Homo sapiens: one gene and its partner. The protein of the gene in region 1 purifies or fractionates together with the protein of each later gene. This does not show direct contact. Each region holds a gene or a part of one and is shown in the gene's direction. Other genes may lie near its edges.

Evidence for each region.
Region 2: the proteins of ZNF396 (region 1) and BCL7B purify together in Homo sapiens (affinity purification with mass spectrometry; one large-scale study listed by BioGRID and IntAct). This does not show direct contact.

What each region holds. Positions count from the first base shown.
Region 1 is NC_000018.10:35,367,338-35,370,837, reverse strand, and holds part of ZNF396 (zinc finger protein 396), read left to right. Parts: intron 1-1,177; coding exon 1,178-1,623; 3' UTR 1,624-2,392; coding exon of another isoform or gene 2,393-2,487; 3' UTR 2,488-3,500. UniProt on the Homo sapiens protein: Isoform 1 and isoform 2 act as DNA-dependent transcriptional repressors.
Region 2 is NC_000007.14:73,547,691-73,551,190, reverse strand, and holds part of BCL7B (B-cell CLL/lymphoma 7 protein family member B), read left to right. Parts: intron 1-3,500. UniProt on the Homo sapiens protein: Positive regulator of apoptosis. Plays a role in the Wnt signaling pathway, negatively regulating the expression of Wnt signaling components CTNNB1 and HMGA1.

The sequences.
Region 1 (3,500 bases):
CAGCTTCAGTTAAAATGCCACCATGGGCCGGGCGCGGTGGCTCACGCCTGTAATCCCAGCACTTTGGGAGGCCGAGGCGGGCGGATCACGAGGTCAGGAGATCGAGACCATCCCGGCTAAAACGGTGAAACCCCGTCTCTACTAAAAAATACAAAAAATTAGCCGGGCGTAGTGGCGGGCGCCTGTAGTCCCAGCTACTTGGGAGACTGAGGCAGGAGAATGGCGTGAACCCGGGAGGCGGAGCTTGCAGTGAGCCGAGATCCCGCCACTGCACTCCAGCCTGGGCGACAGAGCGAGACTCCGTCTCAAAAAAAAAAAAAAAAAAAAAAAAAATGCCACCATGAGGATAACTGAAGTGATTTCTTCAGGTAATGCAACCACATTACACTGGCATTTTCACATCTGAGTTAGCAGTTCTGCTGGAGCTTTAGGCACCCTGAGTCATAAGGCCCTCTGCATCAAGCCAGGTTTGTGTGCCGCCTGAGTGGCCGCAGCCCATAAGCAGCCATGTACGTTTTTCATGGATGTTAAATGTAATACAAAATAATACAACAAACAGCGATTCAACCAGTAATATAAAATCCATACAGGAGTAGAGGTTTTTCATCAGTGGGTACTCTGCTACCCTTGATCTTTTGAGGTACTAGTTATCCTAGTCTATAATCTTCCCTTTATTGGCCTAACTTATATTTTCTTACTTTATTTTCCACATTCCTTTTTGGCCCCTTGGCTTTCTTCAGCTCATTTCTTTGCATAGTTACTGATTCCTTTATGAATATTAAGCTTTATTTATTTATTGATACTCCAGTACTAAATCTTGTTTGTTACTCCCACTGGCACATTGGATTCCTCTCCTTCTAGCTCTCTGTGTCTCCAATCATTTCTTCTTTCTAAGCCCTTTCTTTCCTTCCAGACTTTCCTTAGTCTCTGACATATCTTTTTATCCTTATTCCCTATTCTGTCTTTTCCATAGAACTTTGCAACTTTACAGTTTAGTTGACTGCCTCCTCAGTATGTAAACCTTTCTCTATGTCTTATATAAACTTCTCAATATTTTGTCTTACACTCTCCGTCCTTCACATTGTGTGTTGTTTTATAAACATGCTAGCAATAATCATGTATATTTCATTTGGATCATCCTTTCTCTTTCCTGGTGACATTTGTTTTTCCATTTCAGATGAAGACATCAAAACTACAAATGTGAAATCTGCTTCAAGGCAAAAGACTTCTTTAGGCATAGAACTGCATTGCAATGTTTCCAATATCCTTCATATGAATGGCTCCCAGAGTTCCACATATAGAGGAACCTATGAACAAGATGGTAGGTTTGAAAAGAGACAAGGAAACCCTTCTTGGAAAAAACAACAGAAATGTGATGAATGTGGCAAAATCTTTAGTCAGAGCTCAGCCCTTATTTTACATCAGAGAATCCACAGTGGAAAGAAACCTTATGCATGTGACGAGTGTGCAAAGGCATTCAGCCGAAGCGCAATTCTGATTCAGCATCGACGAACCCATACTGGTGAGAAGCCCTACAAGTGTCATGACTGTGGCAAAGCCTTTAGTCAGAGCTCAAATCTTTTTAGACATAGGAAAAGACACATTAGAAAAAAAGTCCCATAAGTATCATGAGGGAATCAAAGCATTTACTCAGAGCTATTTCAGCACAAGGGAAGACACCAGATGCAAACGCTCCTTAGTACAAATCAGTGGTCTTAGTAAGCACCAGTCTCCTTTCAAGACTCATGAAAGCCACAGGAGAGAAGGTTGAAGATCTCAGGTCAGCATTATTTGCTTTTCTGCTTATCAATGCAGTCTCAATTCTGACGTTTGCAATTCCAAAGCTTAATTCAGATTTCCATCCCTATGCAGGCCTTGAAAAGGCATTCTCAGACATGTTCTACTATTTTCATTATTAACACATATAATGAATTAGTATATATCTTTTTAGACAAGTATGTTTTTTCCCTCATTGAGAAGGAATGTGTGAGTTACTCAGTGTAAAAATAGACATTCTCCTCCATTTCATAACTTGAGCACTAGAATTCTAAAGACCAAAAATTAAAGCACTCAAAAAGAATTCCTGGCTGGGTGCGGTTGGCTCATGCCTGTAATCCTAGCACTTTGGGAGGCCGAGGCAGGCAGATTGCCTGAACTCAGGAGTTCAAGACCAGCCTGGACAACACGGCGAAACCCCGTCTCTACTAAAATTCAAAAAATTAGCCAGGCATGGCAACGTGTACCTGTAATCCCAGCTACTAGGGAGGCTGAGGCAGGAAAATTGCTTGAACCGCTCAGACAGAGCAAGACTCCGTCTTTAAAATAAATAAATAAATAAATAAATAAATAAATAAAAATAAAAATAAATTCCTATTTTGTCTTCTGTTACTAGATTCAAAATATGAACATGCGATTGCAGAGGCCCAAAAGAATATGTACTTCAAGACTAGGCTGAAGTGCCCCAGGTCACTTTCAGGAGGCAGATAAATAAAGGCCTTATCTTATGAAAGCACACAAGAGCCTCCATACTATTAATATCAAGTTAATTTCCCGTGTTGGAAAAAAATAATCTCCTTTGCAATGTAATTTGGAAATAAGTCAATGGAAACATGAAAATGACTGCTTGTCTACAAGGAGTCAGCTAAACATAAGGAATGTTTTCATAACAATATTAATCTATGGGTGCTTCTGTAAGATGGATGATCATCTTAATATAAAGAAAAAAGGGAGATGAACAAAATTGTCAAACAAGACTGATGTACCACAAGTGTTGTCAAGTACAGTGTGTGTCGGAGAGATGTACCACAGCTTAACTGGAAGAGGAAGCCCGTAACTGCTGATGACAATACTTTCAGTGTCCCCTTTTCTGGCATAAATCAACTATGAATATGTTTCAAGCATCACAAGACAACCTTTTCAGAGTCTTCTGTATTCTTAGTAAGATGAGTTTCTAGACACGCTGTCATGAAATGAGACCCTGGATTTTGATGCTCTTGTACATATGGACAAATCACTGAAGTTCAATTTAAAGGGTCCACTGCAGTCCCTTATAAACAATTGTTGAACCTAACCATTATAGTTTATAAGTTTTAAGACATTTATGGGATATCTTATTTGGCTTATCTATGGGATATGAGTAACTATGTTTTACCTGCATTTAATTCAGCCAGATTCCCTGTTTAAAATTACTGAATCGTACATTATTAAAATTATTCTGACAGTATACAAACAACAAAATTATCTATTTTCCAGAGATTCTTGATAAAACTCTGTAATGTTACTACAATAATACATGTATTGTGTTTTCCATGGTGCTACAGTTACACAATATGGAGGCAAACATCAGAAATCAAAGTCCTTGGAATAAGGGAAGAGACTCATAGTAAACTTCTTTGTCTGGTTGGGTTCCTCATAAAGTATAAAACATTTCATTCTCAGAAAATCCAACCATATCTTAGAGTATCTCCAGAAACTGGCTTAGAGGAGCTCCAAATATGTGG
Region 2 (3,500 bases), on another chromosome or scaffold:
ACCTAAAATATTTATCATCTGACCCTTTAAGAAAAAGTTTGCTGATACTTGCTCTTATGCGATTAGTCCCCCACTGTATTGTGTGTATCATATGTATATACATCTTTCTAATTCTGGTGTAGACCTTTGTGCTTCATCTTTGTTGGATGTATTTGGATACCTGTATATTCTTTAAAAATACATAGCATTGTTTCATATGTGTATTTTTGTGTTTAAACAAAACTTAAATATGTGGGCCGGGCGTGGTGGCTCACGCCTGTAATCCCAGCACTTTGGGAGGCCGAGACGGGCGGATCACGAGGTCAGGAGATCGAGACCATCCTGGCTAACATGGTGAAACCCCGTCTCTACTAAAAGTACAAAAAATTAGCCGGGCATGGTGGTGGGCGCCTGTAGTCCCAGCTACTCGGGAGGCTGAGGCAGGAGAATGGTGTGAACCCAGGAGGCGGAGCTTGCAGTGAGCCGAGATCGCACCACTGCACTCCAGCCTGGGCGACAGAGTGAGACTCCATCTCAAAAAAACCAAACAAACAAACAAAAAAAAAACAAAAAAAAAATATGTACAGTATTTTGCCAGAACCTCTTTGTATTCTCTGTGGTTCAACTTTGGTTTTTTAATTTGGGGTTTTTTGCTTTTTTGTTTTTTTGAGACGGACTCTCGCTCTGTCGCCAGGCTGGAGTGCAATGGTGCAATTTCAGCTCACTACAACCTCTGCCTCCCAGGTTCAAGCAATTCTCCTGCCTCAGCCTCCTGAGCAGCTGGGATTACAGGCGCCTGCCACCACGCCTGGCTAATTTTTCTATTTTAAGTAGAGACGGGTTTCACCATGTTGGCCAGGTTGGTCCCAAACTCCTGACCTCAAGTAATCCGCCTGCCTTGGCCTCCCAAAGTGCTGGGATGACAGGCATGAACCACCGTGCCTGGCCCAACCTTGTTTTGAGAACCCTCCATGTATCTGTAAATATAAATAGAATTATTACCTTTGACTCATGCATTGCATTTTCTTATTTGCAGTGAGTACCTTTATCTACATATTTTCTGGGTGATAAATACCCAGATTGTTTCCAACTTTATTTTTTCTAATTGTTTTTTAAATTTTCAAATATAAAACACATACAGAGAAGTATATAAAACATAAATGTACAGTGTATGAATAAATATAAAGCTAACACTCTTGTGAGAACCACTCTGCAAAACACAGCTTTGCCAAGACCCCAGCAGACCTCTCTGCAGCTCTTCCCATCCTCTTCCTCCTGTCCCTCTAAAGGTAATGACTCTCCTACTTTTGCTTTTCTTACCACTTGTCTAGTCATTCATAAACAGTTTTTCCTTTATTATTATTTTTGAGATTTTTTTTCCAGAGACAAAATCTCACTATGTCACCGAAGCTGGAGTGCAGTGTCATGATCTCAGCTCACTGGAGCCTTGACCTCCCAGGCTCAAGCAATCCTCCCACCTCAGCCTCCTGAGAAGCTGGGACCACAGGCATATGCCATCATGCCCAGCTAATTTTTTTTCTTTCTTTTTTTTGTTTGTTTTGGAGAGATGGGAGTTTGCTATGTCAACCTAGGCTGATAGGTCTCAAATTCCTGGGATCAAATGATCTTCCCACCTCGGCCTCCCAAAGTGGTGGGATTTTAGGCATGAGCCATCGTACCCACGCTTTTTCCTTTTTTAGAGATGGTGGGGGGTCTCATTGTTGCCCAGGCTGGATTTGAACTTTTGGGCTCAAGGGATCTTATCTCAGCCTCCCAAATAGCTGGGATTACAGGCATGTGCCACTGCACCAGCCTCTAACATTTTGAGTGTTATGGAAACAGCATGATAAAGTATCTATTTTCGTGTGTCTTGTTTCTTTTGCTCAGCATTATGTTTGTAAAATGCATCCATGTTGTCCTTGGAGTTACCCATTCCTTTCCATTGCTCTCTCTGCTGTATTTTGCTGCATATTCATCACATGGCTAAGTGTAGTTTATTTTTCTGGTTCTCCTGTAGATATTGAGGTTGTCCACAGTTAGGGCCAATAGGAACAATGCCCCTGTGAGCATTCTTGTTCAGAATCCACATCAACATGTACATGAGTTTTCCTAGGATATATTCTTGGAAGGGAAGTGGCTGGGTCTTAGGGTATGTATGTTTTGACCTATATTAGCTGATGCTAAACTATTTGCTGAAATGGTAGTTGTACCAATTTATATTCCCACCAGAAACAGGAGTTTTGTTTTTTGGAGTTTTTTTTGTTTGTTTGTTTGTTTTTTTGAGACGGAATTTCGCTTCTCTTGACTAGGCTGGAGTGCAGTGGCGCAATCTCGGCTCACTGCAGCCTCTGCCTCCTGGTTTCAAGCGATTCTCCTGCCTCAGCCTCCCAAGTAGCTGGGATTACAGGCATGCGCCACCACATCTGGCTAATTTTGTATTTTTAGTAGAGACTAGGGTTCTCCATGTTGGTCAGGCTGGTCTTCAACTCCCGATCTCAGGTGATCCGCCCGCCTCGGCTTGCCAAAGTGTTGGGATTACAGGCGTGAGCCACTGTGCCCGGCCTGCTCCTTTTTTTATTATTATTATTATTTTGTAAGACACGGTTTCAATCTGTCGCCCAGGCTGGAATGCAGTGATGTAATCTCGGTTTACTTCTACTTTTGTCTCCTGGGCTCCAGTGATCCTCCCACCTCAGCCTCCTGAGTAGCTGGGACTACAGTCACATGCCACCACATCCAGCTAATTTTTGTTGTTGTTGTTTCCTTATTTTGTTTTGTTTTTTCGAGACAGAGTCTCACTCTGTTGCTCAGTCTGGAGTACAGTGGTGCGATCTAAGCTCACTGCAACCTCTGCCTCCCGGGTTCAAGCAATTCTCCTGCCTCAGCCTCCAGAGTAGTTGGGATTACAGGCACACACCACCAGGCCCGGCTAATTTCTGTATTTTTAGTAGAGACAGGGTTTTACCATGTTGGCCAGGATGGTCTTGATCTCCTGAGCTCGTGTTCTGCCCACCTCCGCCTTCCGAAGTGCTGGGATTACAGGCGTGAGCCACTGCGCCCAGGCTCGCCTAAAATTTCATGCACCTACATTTTTTTTTTTGAGACAGGGTGTCACTCTGAGGCTGGAGTGCAGTGACGTAATCTTGGCTCACTGCAGCCTCCGCCTCCTGGGTGCAAGCAGTTCTGGTGCCTAGCCTCCCAGTAGCTGAAACTACAGGTGCATGCTGCCACACCCAGCCTAATTTTTGTATTTTTTGGTAGAGACGGGGTTTCATGATGTTGGCCAGGCTGGTGTTGAACTCCTGACCTCAAGTGATTTGCCCATCTAGGCCTCCCAAAGTGCTGGGGTAACAGGTGTGAACCACTGTGCTCAGCCTCATGCACCGACTTCTTACTGTTTTCTCCTACATTTGTTTTTCTTTTTGCTAGAATACATCCTTCAAGAGTTTTGTCAAAGAGAGCTTCTGTGGGGAAAACTTTCTGAAAATATCTTTGTTTCACTTTCATGTTGAAAATTGATG